Regions from separate parts of the Homo sapiens genome. Here region 1 is linked to region 2. The links come from fine-mapping of genetic effects on gene expression. A gene starts in region 2. The other region holds a variant in brackets. All regions are shown on one strand. Distances are between the middles of the regions. Region 1 has its middle 35 kb from the start of DCN. Region 2 holds the start of DCN (decorin).

Evidence for each region.
Region 1: its variant is fine-mapped to the expression of DCN in fibroblasts (GTEx, PIP above 0.99).

The regions. Positions count from the first base shown.
Region 1 is chr12:91,213,166-91,221,519 of GRCh38, forward strand. No RefSeq gene overlaps it. Among named protein-coding and RNA genes, the nearest start is that of DCN, 35 kb to the left of the region's middle. The variant A/G (reference allele first, on the strand shown) is at 3,938.
Region 2 is chr12:91,179,295-91,187,648 of GRCh38, forward strand. It overlaps DCN (decorin), which reads right to left and starts at 3,523. Exons shown (of 8, transcript NM_001920.5): 1 at 3,361-3,523.

The DNA.
Region 1 (8,354 bases), 34 kb after region 2:
TACTTTAGATTCAGGAGGTACATGTACTTGTTTGTTACATGGATATTACATGCATAATGGTGGGAATTGGGCTTCTAGTGTATCCACCACCCAAATATTGAACACTGTACCCAATAGACAATTTTTCAACAATCAACCCTCCTCCAACCCTTCTCCATTTTGGAGTCCCCAGGTTCTATTATCTCAACCTTTATGTCCATGCATACTCATTGTTTAGATCTCACTTATAGGTAAGACCATGCAGTATTTTATCTTCTTCTTCTGAGTTAGTTTACTTAGGATAATGGTCTGCAGTTACATCCTACAAAGGACATGATTTCATTCTTTTTTATGGCTGCATAGTATTCCACAGCATAAATATTACCACATTTTCTTTAAGCAGCCACTGGTGGACACTTAGGGTGGTTCCATGACTTTACTACTGTGAATAGTGCTTTTTATAAACATACGAGTGCAAGTACCTTTTTAGTATAATGATTTCTTTTCCTTTGGGTAAATATCAAGTAGTGAATTGTTGGGTTAAATAGTAGTTCTATTTTTAGTTATTTGAGATATCTCCTTACTGTTTTTCATAGTGGTTGAACTAATTTACATGCCTACCAACAGTTTATAAGCGTTCTCTTTTCTCCACATCCACGCCAACATCTTTTGTTATTTGCCTTTTTAATAATAGTCATTCTGACTGGCATAAGATCATATCTCAGTGTGGTTTTAATTTGCATGTATCTGATGATTATTGGTGTTGAGCATTTTTCGTGTGTTTGCTGGCTGCTTGTATTTGTTCTTTTGAGAAATGCCTGTTCATGTCCTGTGCCCAGTTTTTAATGTTTTTTTATTGTTGATTTGTTTGCATACCTTGTAGTTTCTGAATATTAGTTCTTTGTCAGAGTTAACAGACAACCTACAGAATGGGAGACAATATTTGGACATCTTTTTTTTAGCGAAGTCATAGATCACAGAAAAATTGTGTATAGAGTACAGAAAATATATTCTGTACATATTACTATATATTCTCTTCCCACATAGTTTCTCCTGTTATTAACAAGGGGCTTGATGAATGCATAACACCATGCATCCACCATTACAGTATCATACATAATAGTTTGAACATCTTAAAAATGCCCCGTGCATAGGTAAAACTATCTCCACTTACTCATTCCTGTTTCCCTCTCCCTGAATCTTTGGACACCACTGATCTTTTTACCATCTCTGTAGTTTTTTGTCTATCACAGAGTGCCATATGGTTGGAATCATTTGGAATATAGCCTTTACAGACTGGTTTCTTTCTCTTAGCAATATACATTTAAGGCTCTTCCATTTCTTTTTGTGGCTGATAGCTCATTTCTTTTTATTGTTGAATGATATTCAGTTGTATGGATATATGATATTTTGTGTAACCATTATCCTACTGAAGGACATTTGGTTGCTTCCAATATTTAGCAATTATGAATAAAACTGATTTACAAATTATAGGCAGGTTTTTGTGTAGACAAAAATTTAACTCATTTGGGTAAGTACATAGAAGAATGATTGCTGGATTGCATGTGAAGCTTGTGCTTCATTTTGTAAGAGACTGTCAAACTGTCTTGGGAAGTTGACATATCCTTCTGTATTTCCACCAGCAATGAATGCAAATTTCTGTAAACACATCTTCATTTTAAGAAATACAATCTAAATAAAGTCATTCAAAATAGCTTCTGAGTATGATAGTTTAATAAACATCAATTAAATTATACTTACTTCATGTTACAGAAATTCTTGTTTATACAAGTAAAAGGCATTTGATATACGTCTCCTTGTATTGTTTTGCAGTCTTCACCATCCATTAAAATAAATATCTAAGACATTCCATTTACATGTGTATGTTTTTGCATAAGATCCTTTAAGAATACTTAGCTAAATTTGATAATGCTTAATCCATTTCATGTATATTTATATTACTATAAATTATGTATATGATTGGTGAGTCTCTGAATTTCTATACTTTTGAGATAATCATAAATCATGTTGTTATTATTTAATCTCTGTACTTGGCCTATACTTGGTATGAATATTTTCTCATGATCAGATATGTCTTAGAGAGATTCAAGAATTATAGCACTTAGGATTCCATTTAGTAAGAAATTGAATTTTTTTTAGCATAAAACCCTTTTACAATATAGCCCATGATCTCCTCTGTATCTTCATTTATTTCCACCCATCCTCATACTAAATGCTCCAGATAAAAAGAACTACTTAATAATCTCCACTTACAGTATATTTGCTTTAGTCTCTAAGTTCTAGAGGCCAGAAGTATACAGTGGATTTGAATCTGGGTCCTGCAGTCAAAGAGCTTGTTTTGAGTTCCCTGATTCGTAACTTTGATATTTGAAATTGGGTAAGTTATTTCACTTTTATCAGCCTCAATTTCCCCATTTATAAGAAGTAGTTCATAAAATTGTTGTAGAGATTAAATGACACAGTATCTGCAAATACTTCAGCACAGCAAAGACGTAAACACAATACATATTGAGTATTATAATTATTAATAGCAGACCTGTTTCTTTTGACTGACTGCTTTTCTCTTTCTTTGCCTCAGTTATTTAAAAAAGACACCTCAAGTATTATTTCCTTCTAAGACATTTTCCTTAGAAACCCTTCATTAACAGGCTGAGTTCTTGCAAGGTGGATCCTTCTCTTTCCAATATCCTAAAACTCATTTCCCTTTTATTATTTTATTTTTAATTGTATTTTGTCTCTGCCACTAACATGTAAATTCCTTGATGTTACAGACTCTGTGTTACTCCTTTGTTATGGCTAGCACCAGGCATATAGTCAGTGTATCCCTTAGGAATCTTCAGTAAAAATAACAGAATGCTTGACTCATTCTCAGGCTTAAATAGCAGAACTTAATGGAGCAAGTAACTGAAGACCAGAGGCACGTCAGATTTTAGGTAATATGTAACCCAATGTTGTGATGACATCACAAAAGACTCAATTCCTTTCCAAGTCTCCTTGGCACCTTTCTCAGTGCTCTTTCAATCTAAGGCTTCTTTCTCTTGGGGTTACAAGATGGCCGCTGTCATCTGCCAGTGGTTAAAAGACTTTGCATTCATAGTAAGCAGAAGGAGAATTTTCTTTTTTTTCTGAGGAGCTCTCTTGGGAGAATAAGAAAGTTCTTTCTCAAAAACCCTCAGAAAACATCTCCTCCCATCACGTTGGCCTGATTTGGGTCATGTTCTCATCCCTGAAGCCAGGAACATGGGTTGTGCCTATTACATTAGTTCAGTTAGAACATACCTAAAACAGAAATTATCTTCCCCACATTTATAGGAGCTCCATAGAGAAAAGAAAATACTAGAATAAAAGTAGAATTACTATTACCGAGAAAAAGGAGGGACGAGTGTGCTAAATATAAGAACAATATCCTCTCTTTTCAAAGGCACAAAATAGGATCTGAAAATATCTTTGACCTGGATGTTATAGAGTCTATGAAAGAGGGTGATATACTAAAGCATGATTTGTCCCATTTTTATCTTTTTGAAATGAAATTTAAATTGTGTGCATGAGGGTTAGCCTTCAATATGTACAGTTTATGTTGTATATACTATTTGAATTTTAATATGAGCTTTATGAAAGCAGTGTCCTGCTTTATTTTGTTCACTGCTGAATCTCTAAGTCATACAACGGTGCCTGGCACATAACAGACATGCAATAAACATTTGGTAAATGAATTGATATTTCCAATGTTTGGGATTTACTAATGGAGAGACCACGAATGCGGAAGTTGGGGTAAAAAGAAATTACATTTGTTCTGTCTTATTATTGGGATGGCCAAAGCACTGTGTTTATGAGTAATTTACATGGCACTAAAAAACAGGGATCAAATAAAGACAATGTGTTCCAAAGAACTTGTTCAAATCATGTGAGCAGCTGCATCATAAGATGACTAATGAAG[A/G]AATTAGAAGCACTGAGGCAAGGACTTTAGACCTGTGTGATGGCAGAGAGCAGAGTTAACCCATGCTAGACTGTTCTTAGTACAGCAATCTGAATGTTAAAACCTAATGTTCAACATAGCACTCTTCTGCACAAATACTGGCAATGGCTCCTCATTTTCATTAAAAAATAAATAAATAAATAAACATCTCAAAATTCTTAAGAGGCACATGAGGCCATCAAGAACATTCTCCAACATCGTCACCACCACTGTAACTACTACTTCTTCTTTGTCTTCTTCTTCTTCCTCTTCCTCTTCTTCTTCTTCATTTTGTATTACTCGCACACTTATTCGCTCCTGCCTTCTCTTTGACTGAAATACTTTTCCCTTACATTGTGCAGTTGTTTCTTCAGTTACCTTTACAGAAGGTCTAACATGACCACCCAGTTTAACACTGCATCCTATCCCTCCCTTCCACCTTGATACTTAATACCCTTCACTGTATTCTACCTTTATTTCCATAGCATTTATTACCTTCTCACATACTATAGAATTCACATTTATTTTCATTTTATTTTCATTTCATTTTGTAACTTCCCTATCAAAAAGGAAGCCCCAATCAGGTAGTAGTTATTATTTGTTCACTTATTTGTTCTGAATGCATAGAACAGGACTTGGCCCATATAATAGTAACTTTGATATTTGAAATTGGGTAAGTTATTTCACTCTTTTAACCATTTATTCAAATCAGGAGTTCAGGCTTATCCTATAACAGTACCCAAAAAGGCAAATTTAATCTCCTTTATCTTTCCACATGCTATTAGCTTTCTAGGTCTCTTCTATGTTAGAAAACATTGCTGCCAAATAAAATGTATTTTGAACATATTTAATACTCGGATTGTTTCCCTGCATTTTAGTGAAATTCAACTGTCAAATGGAATTAAACAATGATATAATAGGTTAATTCATAACAAATTTTGGATTTCTGAACATTTGTCCAAGTTCCAGACTTAGAAACAATTTTGGGTAGAAGCTCAAATATATGTTTAATTACTTTATTGTATGATCTGTTATGTTTGAAACTTGAGTTTTTCTAGAAAGATCCTGGTAGGGCTTGGGGATTGTATGTTTGACTCTAGAATGGCACATGTCTTTTTCTGTATTACAGGTATCTCTAAAAACTTATGATCCTACATTTATTTTTTTAAATAGCACTAGCCAATAAATAATCCTTACTTTTATGGAATACTAATTTATAAAAACTGTTGCCCAAATAAGAGATACAATTTCTGCTTCCTGGTTTTTTTCTGATGGAAGCCTTTCTTTCTTTCTTTAAATTTTATTTTATTATTATTATACTTTAAGTTTTAGGGTACATGTGCACAACGTGCAGGTTTGTTACATATGTATACATGTGCCATGTTGGTGTGCTGCACCCATTAACTCGTCATTTAGCATTAGGTATATCTCCTAATGCTATCCCTTCCCCCTTCCCCCACCCCAAAACAGGCCCTGGTGTGTGATGTTCCCCTTCCTGTGTCCATGTGTTCTCATTGTTCAATTCCCACCTATGAGTGAGAACACGCGGTGTTTGGTTTTTTGTCCTTGCAATAGTTTGCTGAGAATGATGGTTTCCAGCTTTATCCATGTCCCTACAAAGGACATGAACTCATCGTTTTTTATGGCTGCATAGTATTCCTTTCTTTCTAAATTTATTAAATGATACTAATGATAGCTTCTTATTCAAAAACTTGTCAACTTTTTCATGATTGATGATTATTCACAAAATCAAGTTTTGTTATTTTGTTCTGCATAGTATTGTTCTACAGAGATTCATTCCCTGAAGACATTAAGTGTTTTGTTTTGTTTTATAGGATTCTTGTTTTTCCTTAGACTAGGCCACCATTTTTCTGGGTCTGGCTCTTGGACAGCCTCCTGTCTTCCCTGTGACATCCCATAGTTCTCAGAAATCTCTCACCTGAATTCATCCAAGCTTTGCTCCTCAACATGGCAAACTTTTAATTGTCTTATGTCACTAATCTATTTAATTCTTTTCCTCTTTAATTACCAAAATTTTTCTTATTCCTCATATAATTTACTCATTCCTTTACCTAACATTTCAATACATATTTGGAATAGAAAATATGTAGAGAAGTAATCATATTAAGAAGAGATCATACAAAAGTATTATTCATCTCTCCATGATACTTTATATATTCACATAATCATGTGTATACACATTTATTCTTTAACTCATGTAATATTTATTTTAGTAACAATTGAGAACTTGTTTTATGTCATGCACTAGGCACATGAAATACATTAGTGAAGAAGACGTATTTTACAGAAACTATGAAAGATAATACATGTTTGTAGTGTTATGCTACTTAGTTATGCAATTTGTCTCTGCTGGCCATGATGCTAGCGAGGGTGGCTCATTTTGTGGTAGGGGAAGCAATGGAACATACACTTCCCAGATGGCTTCACTCATATGGTTGCTTTATGGGGCTAGATTATCTTTATCACAGCACACAATGGTTTCAGGATACTTCAAAGCCTTATGTGGTGTGGAGCTTTCCCCAGAGCACCACAGCAGAATTTCCCATCTTTCTTAACCTTTAGACCAACACTGGCATGGCATGACTTCCTTCCACTAAGTCTTGGGTAATTTGTGACACAGCAATAGATGACTAATTTAGGATCTCTACTTCAGACTATTTCCTGCCAATTCCCAAGCTCACATTGCTGCTAGTCTCAGGACTCATTGACAATTTGGTGGCCCATAAAACTGAAGTCTGAAATAAGATAGACCTGATTTCTAGTTACAGATTGATAACTTTCTAGTCATGTGTCTTTGAGCAAGTCAGGCCAGTGGGCAGTTTCAAACAATCTATTTCTTCATCTCAAGAAAGGCCAATGATGTTTATTTCATTTGGATGCTGTGAGGATCAAATAAGACAGTAATAAATGTAAGCTCTGTTGTCATTTCTGTTCACATGATCACATGACCCTTTAGAAGAGTTTCTCTACCTGCTAAGTTGACAATAGAATTAGGGAGTGGAGTGCAAAAGCTGATGTGAGAAGACAAGTTATTACCTGCTCTTGAAACTCAGACAGGTCATGATAGTAGCTCGGAGAGAGAAGGATTAAAGTAAAATATATTGTAAATTTAAAAAGACAGAAATTCCCTTTGATGACATCCACAGACACATAAGTTTTTTATAACTTTTTTTATTTATAACTTTTTTTATTTATAACTTTTATATCCTTTTAACAAAATTCCACATCTCTAGGTTAAATATTTCTCTTTCTTTAAACATTTCTCATAAGCGATGTTGTGTTATTCTTTTGTAAATATATTTTAATCCATCTAAATCCTTCTAAATGAAGGTACTCAGAACTGAAAGAAATAGTCCAAGAATTTACCAACCAGTACAGAGTTGGACTGTGCCGCCCTAGGTTTACCTGTGGTACTGTCCTTAATGAAGATGGATATGATATCCTTTTGGTCATGAAATCATCTGATATTGAATGTTCTGATAACCAAAAAAGGGGCTAAGATATGACCCCTTATTTTGTGACAGTGAATTCAGTTGACTATACATGAGCAAAGGTGTCATAGTTATCCTTGATCAGTTTCACCTCATAACACATCCTATCTCAGTGCATTGGGATCTTTTTGTATATTTTTTGCTTACAGATTTTGTCCACAGACATATTTGTTCTTCTTTACAAATTCCGATTATTTTCAATCAACTTAACCTTATGAAATTTATTGCTAAATGCATGTAAGACTTTATCCATATCTAAATGGAAAGATAGAGATAGGTGTAATATAATCAGCATCAAAAATGTATTAGAACATATGTGAAAAATCATATCAATATGTCTAAACCAAATAACTAGATAGACATGATTCAAATTTGTTGTATTTATGTTTTTTTCATAGCATACACTGATCTGAAATTCATTAATTCATAAATTTGTGTGTGTGTACTATATACTCTGCTAGGTGCTGGGAATACAGCAATGGACAAGGCAGAGTAGGTGTGTGGCATTACAGGGTTAATAACAAGCAAACAATGACAACCCATGACATGAAGGTGATTCTATTTCACTGACTTATTTTTTTGCATGGATTCTACATGTGTAATCAATTTTAATTGTTAGATTTATTGAAACTTCATCATATTAAAATGAATTTCATAATATTTTGTTTTACCACCAAGATAAAACAATTTTTAAAAATAATTTTAGACTGCTTTTGAAATGCCATCAGCCTATTTCAGAATGTTTTCTTTTTACAGCACATGTATAATATTGGAAGTTTTTTCATTGATTTTATATTTATATAAAATATATAATCAATTTAAATCTAGCCTGTACCTCTTATTGTGCATCAGCATTTTTTAAATGTTGACATCATTATAATGGTTGC
Region 2 (8,354 bases):
GTCACTCCATTCCCAGTCCTCACCTGAACCCTGACAATCAAAGCTACTTGCCATGTAGAATACCGACCTTGCAAGAGAGTTGTAAAGATTAAATGAGATAGTGGGCTTCTCTTCTGTGTCCCCTGGCTCATCCAGGCAAGATGCTGCTTTCTCCCTCTTCTCTGCTCCCAAAGCACGTTGCTCTTACCTCTTTTAAAGAACTTATCACATTATATTGCAATTTGTTTTGCGTGCTTGGTCTGTCCCTCACTAGACGATGTACTCCTTCAGGGCGTGTCTTATTATTCCTTGTTCTGTACCCGGGCCTTGCACAATATTTTGCACACAAATGACTCAATTGACCATCACTTTATTGACAAGACGATTTATTCCATTTGTTCCAAGCAATCAGTCTGATTTTTTAAAACACAAAATTAGCTTTTTTTCAGTATCGAATTTCTGATATAAAAAAAGCAGATTGAAAACCTCAACTTGGTATAAGCAAGATCGGCTTTAAAAAATAAATCAATTTCCTAGTTTCTCAAACATTATGTTTAATAAGCTAATAAACACATATGGAAAATTCTGATTTTTATGTGATGTATATATGATCTCATTTTGCTAACAGGGCATTTTGTAAAAAAACAAGTATTGTTTTGATAAATGTATTCCATATTTATCCATTCATTCCACAAGCACGAATCTATGTTGTTAAATCAACTGAAGTGCACTAAATAAATCTGAGTGACAAAATCGTAATAAATCTGAATAACAAAAGTACTTGATTATATAGCAGCAAAGTCATTTGGGAGATGAAATATTTTTTAAATTGCATTGAAACCATTCTGATATCTCCAAAACATAGTAGATATTTAGTCCCATCATAGCAGATATTTAGTCCCATCATCTCTACCTTGAATTGTACACTTAGACGAATCCATATTAAAGCTGTACGTTCGTAAGTAGAATCTTACAGCTGTTTTGAGTCATTATCCAATTGTAGCATATTAAAAAAAAGAAGAAAGAAAGAAGGAAGGAAGAAAGAAAGAAAGAAGGAAGAAAGAAAAGGAAAGAAAGAAAGAGAAAAAGAAAGAAAGGAAGAAAGTGAAAGAAAGAGAGAGAGAGAGAGAAAGAAAGAAGAGAAGAGAAAAGAAAGATCTTTGTATGATCTAACCTTAAGGTATCTTCTGGGAATTTTTGCCTAGATTCTCTAGAGAAGAAACAAATGTTTTTCAGTTTCTTACATGTTTGTTCTTAGTTTATATTTACTACTGATATGTGTCTAAGGCAGCACATGTTGAATACAGGCTTGTGGCTTTTCATTTAACAAAATATCATAAAGATTATTATTCACACTGCCACTTTAAGTTCAACATTAAGCTTCTTCTAGCAGCCCACTCTCATTCAGTTACTGAGTATCCCTTTAAGAGAAGACTTTTGTTTTGGCAGCCTGTTCCTTTGGATTGTATCTGAGGGAGTGGTTTTGTATCTGTTTCCCATTAAAAATGCAATGTTTATGGTTTACCACAAGCTTGCTAGCCTTGCATATTTAATGTCTTACAAGTTTAAAAGAAAAATGAAGCAAAGTCATTGCAGATTTAATAAATAGCAACGACAGTTAATGCAGATGTCACTTTGAAATCTTTTCTCCAGAGCAGAACATGCCTGGTTGTTTCACTAACAACCCACAAAAAGAAAATGTTGAGTATTAGCTGAGAGAAATAGTATTATAATTTATGTTTGTTTACTCCTGTTAAAATGGTACAAATTCTCCAAACAATATTCTTTTTGATTGAAGCTGAATATAGACAGGCAGCTTATAACTTCAATCACCGACCTTTATTTCATTTTCATTTGCTCGTGTGTGTGTGTGTGTGAGAGAGAGAGAATGTATGTGTGTGTGTTCATGTGTGTGTGACAGAGAGAGAGTGTATGTGTGTGTGTGCATTTAACCCTGACTGTACTGTGAAAAAATAATTGCATGTCCAGAAACTTTGTGCAAAATCTTCCATAAAATCATCTGTTTTAAATTAGTGTCATGGTACTTCAAGACCCAGCATCTTAAAACATTTAATGTGGGCTGTCAATACTGATAATTCCTTTCGTCATTTCCTTCTTTCCTTAATTAATCAGAAATATAAAGAGCAAAGAGCAGCTGTCCAAGTAGTAACCAAAGAGATTGTTATTGAGATGATATGCTGTTTAAATTATACTGAAACTGTTTTAAGTAGTCTAAAAATGCATGACAATGTCCAAGATGCTAATTACTAATGTAATATCACTACTCCACTGAAGCTAGTTGCCATAGTTTACAAATGTTTTACCAAAAATAATAATTTCTGGTTCCTAAAACTAGTTAAGCCCATTAAATGAAGTATGTCATCCAGATCAACATTTGCATTATGTTATCTATGCCTCTGGTGTCACTTTCAAAGTCAAAATTTAACCCTCAAGAGATAAGTGAAGCTATAAATGCAAAACAAAATTAAAATCCTACAGCACTAGATGATTAAAAACTTCAATTATAATATATGTAATTTTAAAATAAAGAATAAAGGCGGCATTTATCCACAAACAAGGGTTACTATAGGAGGCATTTGGCTCTTTTCTGGTTAGAAACAGCAACAGGAAAAAAAAAAGCCACAGGTATTTACATCACTGGGAGCCCACTTAATCAGTGGTCACTGTGTTACCCTGTTTTAAAATTAGAAAATTAACCCACATCCTCATTTTATAGTGAATGTATCTTAAAATTTCACTTGCAGTGAAGATACTGACTGGGACACTTTACATTTAAGAAATTATACAGCGTTTTTAGTATCTTAGGCATTTAATAACATAAATATTTTCAATGTTTATTTTCACTTCTCTGGTGATAATTTCTGTTCATTTCTGGGGTTGAAGAAATATACATTAGGTATTTTCAGCTAATCACCAGAGTTCAGTTCTTCTGGGCTTTTAAAAGTCCTTAAAGCAATCAAAAATTCAGGAGAAAAATACATTTTTTAAATATATAGGTCAATTACAGATATGCTACTTCAGAATACTTTTCGGTTACCATCTCTTGAAGAGCTAAACATTCATTAATACAAACACAAAAACATTAATATAGAGAGTCATGGTGTTAGGTTACAGTTTTTTAAGAAGCATCTTTGCAAAAACAGAAGAGAAAGAAATAAAACAATGCATTCAATCATTTTATCAAATATTTAACTTCTGTTTTCAAATAATACTTGTTTAAAATGTTGCATAAAAACTATAAAAGTTTAACAGTTTTTTTTTTCCTTTTCTTTTTCTCACCAAATAATCCCTTTTGCTCGCAACTTGACCGAAGTTTTATTAGTCTGTAGCAGAGTTCAGGACAATTATTGAAAACCATACCTTTTAATCCGGGAATTTGCCACAGGAGCCCTCAAAGCTGAGATGTAATTACACTAAATATTCAGCCCAAGTAAAAGAGTTTGCAGGTGTGGAAAGGAGGAGGGGGTAGGTGCTGCTCTGTGACTAGGTTGAAAACCTCCTGCTTCTACTCCATAGCACAGTTAAAAAATAAGGTTTCCCTCAATGAACACAATCCGGCTGACACCCACATTAGATCATATGGTAATGATATGTCTCTTGTATTGTAGCCAGAAACTTTATCGGCCTTTTTTTTCCTCCCATTTGCTTTATTCTTTTTGCATCTGCTTAAGATTCTAAACTGCTTATGCAGTATAGTGGAGCAACTTGATTTGAAATTTGTCTTATTGTAGATTCATTTCCCTAAGATATTGTAACTAAAGGGTTTGTTTCCCCACCCCCCATCTCATTTCATTCTCCACCCTTTCTAGCCTTGTTTACAAGTAGCATTTATTATACTTCCAAAATGACATTTTTTTCTTGCTTTTGGGATGTGTAAGTCCAGAAAAATGGAATGAAATTAATCTTGTAGTTGTTTTAAATGTGGACTGCAAAAATAAATGAGTAGCCTTATGTGAAACTACTCATTCGGATTCCTACTTGCCTTGGAATGTTTGTGTAAATTCAAGCACTATGCTGTGGAGTTTTTCTGTATATTTTGGACATATTTCTAAAGTGTCCTGAAAGAAAGTCATGGTTTTATATGAAAAGTATGTCATCTATCACTTTCATTAATCATAGTTTAAAATCTTTCTCCCTGTCCACCAGTTTTTAAATAAAATACATAGATAACCTGTAGTTGATCACAACATAGTTTCATCCTCTATATATGAAAAATTTGATTTTCATAGATTATACTTTTATGTAAACTAGAACTTTGAAAAGGCAATAGAGTCTATGTGTCTTTCCAAATTTCAGTAAATGAAAAGAAAAACAAGTGCAACTACAAGGAAAGGTATTTATTTAGCCACTGGAAATCTTTTTTGAGCTTTTATAATTCCCTTGCTGGATGCTGTTAGTTGTCTCTGTGTAGGTCTCTGTGTTTTGACTTGTATCATTATGCTCTGGCCCCTAGGCTGTTACCAGGTGGAAACTGGAAATCAACAGTTTGAAACATGAGATGATCCCCCTCCCATCCTCCAGCCTCCTTCCTTCCCTCCTCCAGCCATCAAAGTATATTCTTCCACAGTAAATATTCTTTTTCCTCAAAAAAACTTAGAGAAATTAAATTCTCAAGTGGTATCTAAGGAGGGGGAGGCGTGTTACCACGTTATAGTTTGCCTTATTTCCTAAGCCCAGCCTCTCAGATAAACAATTTACCCTACTCTGCATCTCCTTAACATTTAATAACCACATATCTAGTTATTCTGATAGTTTAGACAAAGGCAAGCACTATTGTCCCTGGACATTGGTGCAAAAGTCCATGATCCCCTTTACTTGGAATTTATTAATTTCCTTTCTGAACTCTCCTTATATGGCATTTATCTCTTTTTGATGACATATAATCACTCCTGCCTCATATTATAATTATTTATGTACGTGTCTTACTCCAAGGGAGGAATGACATTGTGTTCATGTTTGTAGAATCCCTGCACCCAGAATAGCCATGGTATATACTAAGTTACCAAGATACATTTGCTAAATTAGTAAAGACAATCAAATGATTGGCTATGGACCGTACCCGGACTGGTGTTTTGCCCCAATCCTGGCTTACTGTTTATCAAAACTTAACCCTACTAAAGTGTATATGACAAATTATGGCCATCATTACAAGACAGAGAGAGAGAAAAGGAAGTATTAAAGAAAAAGTAGAAGAAGAAAAATGAGGAGGAGGAGAAAAAAAGACATAATGCCTTTTTATGTAGATAATTTTACTTTTATAAAAGCAGAACCATTATGGTTAAGATTTAGATCTTGTTCCTTCCCCCCGATAGTAAGCTATATGAACTCAGGCAACTTGCTTAACCTCTCTGAATTTCAGTTTCCATATCTGAAAAATGGATACAAATTCTTACCTAACTCATAGTGTTGGAGTGGAGATTAAATAAGGCAATATATATAAAACACTTAACTCAGAACTTAATCCTTATAAGTGAAAATCTCTGTAAATGCAAGCTTTTATTATGTCTTGACATATTTCAAAACAATCCTTTGAGTTAGACAAGATAAGTCATATTTACTATTTCTGTTTTACAAATGAGAAAATTGAAGCCCAGTGACTTGCCCAAGTTCACAGAGCTGGCAAGAAACAAAGCAGAAACTAATATCCAGGTCTTCTCATGCCTAATCCACTTTTCATTACTAAACTATACTAAACTATAATGTATCTTAAGAAAGAGGAAGCAAATTCTTACATATAGAAAAGTAATTATCAAAGTTTTGAGATAACATCTTTTCAGACTATTTTACAAACCATGACCAAGTTGCAATGCTTTTAAAACTTTATTTAATTTGTTCAGGAACAAATAAAAATTTTCTTTTTGTTGTTGTTGTTTGGAAAGAAACTCACCTCCAAAATCTCAAGCATTTTACCAAACATCATCATATTTAAAAGCTGCATCTTTAATCACAAGTTACATCTATCGTCATACTCATTTTTCAGTAGAAGAAACTATGTCCCAACAAAGTCATACGCAGTTAAGTCACCAAGAGGTCATGACACTATGACCAGAAACCAGGTCTCTTGCAATCCAACATGAAATGGAACCATTTTAAGACTAGAAACAGCACTGTGCACAGATTGCTTAAAGTCATTCTGGCTTGGAATGTTTGGGGTAGGATTCCCTGAATCCCTGGCTGACATATAGATATGTGAAATATTCCAATTCAGAGCACATCCCACATCTACTGTTAAACTACTTAAACTTTGATTTCTACTGACAACCCACTAGCTAACAGGGTTAACTGTATTCTGCACATTGTCGAAGTTCATTTCAGGGCCATTCTCTCTCATTGACATCACATACAAAGTATTTAATTGTACCTGCCCATTAAGGATATGAAGAATGCCAGAGCTTAGAAAGGTCTCCTTCTGACACCCCTTTACTTTCTAAGAGGTCTAGAGGCAAGTGATTATCTTCACAATCCTGATGTGACTGGTTTGTCTGTAGACTGACTCTGCAAAGTCAGATCTGGGTCTGGTGTGAATTGTCTGGCTCTGTAGTTGCCACTGTAGACAGAGTTCTTCCCTAGCCAAGAAAGATGACTAGCGTGGAACTGAGGGCACTTTGAATACAGAATAGCTTGAAAGAAAATTTGGTGTAGACAACTTTTACCTTGGCTATCTTCCCATGCCTCTATTCCTCCATCCCTTACCATTGTGTTTGGTGTCCTGGTACCTTGTACAAGTAACTTAACCTCTTTGTTCTCCAGGTTTTTAACCTATACAATGTGAGTAGCCACAGTGGTATCCCCTTCATGAGTTTATAGTGAGGTTCAAAGAAGTTTAATACATAAAACATTTAGAACTGTGCCTGACACATCTCAAGCAACACTTGTTGCTTCCGCTGCTGCTTCTCTTGTGTTTTTTGTTATTACAAACTTTACCTTGGACACTCCAGTACAATAACCAGACTGCACATCTTTTATAGTCCAGTGGATTTTCTGCCTAACAACAGAAGAAATCAGCTAAGCTATGATATAGTTTGGAGCTAGATAAGCTTTCGTTTAAGCCTTGACTTTGTGTTGTTACATAACAGCCTGGCTTTCTTTATGCATAACATTTTATTGGGCTCCAAGTCCAGCTGAAATCCATTCATGGACTTTATAAGGAAACAGAGACTCCAGGTTAAGAATTTCTACTCTGAGCAGTAAAGTAGAAATGGGAATAGAGACAGGGAAAGGATAAGTAATGAATTAAAATAGATTAAAAAGTATCAAGGAGATATTCAGTTCCTTAATTTCCTGACTTTTCTTGAATGCTCTGGGGCATCTCTTTTGTCAGTTGTAATTAATTAAAAGATTAATTATTATTTCCATAATATTGATTAGTTTGTACTTGGACAGTAAATCAACACTTATTGAATATCCATTAGTCTGCACAAGGTACATACCTCTCTGTTAAATACAAGGAAATTTACAATAACTCATCAATCAATTAATCAAAAAATATAGACTGAGGAACCACTGTGGGAGGAAGTGTTATACCAGGCCCCATGGAAGATACCAAGAAATACAAAGTACGATGTGAAGGGCATAGCCTCAAGGGAAATATGTTGCATAAGGAGATATGGCATAAACTATAGATTTGTATAATAATATTTTAGCTTTAGCATACCAGAAAACTTATAATGTATAATTCCCGGCCAAAGTAAAGTATGATGTAATTAAAATAATTGTCTTAGAAAGTCAGAGAAGGGATTGAGGGATGGATCACTTTACATTTGAGTGGTTAGGTAAGTGTTTATAATGAACAAGGTACAATTTGAGCTAAATCCTGAGGGATGAAAAGAATATGCATGGAGAGAAAAGAAAGAAATGGCTTTTTATGTTGGCAAAATGACACTAACAAACCTTGGCAATGGGAAAGCAGAAGACAATAAATAAATCAATGTGGCTTAAGCAGATACTTTCTTTCAAAGAAGCCTTGAGTTCCTTTATTTCTTTGAACATTCAGTAACTCTCATGGTATCTGACATGTCAAAGTCACACAATAAATTAATGTCCCATGTTTATGGAAATAACTAAAAGGAGATAATGAAATAAATGAGGGTAAGGTCTAACTGTGGAAGGACTTGAAATTCTCCCATGGAGCACTTATACATTTATTCATTCATTTGTTCATCAAATATTAATTTGTTGATGAATATGTGCCAATTATTATGCTTGAATCTAGATGTTATCAAAGGTAATTGAATGAGGTAATAACATGATCCAATTATTATTTTAGAAAATCAAATCTAGCAAGCACATGTAGAGTGGTGAAACTAGAGTCAAGGAAACTAGTTAGAAGGTTGTAGTTTTAATCTCAGTATATT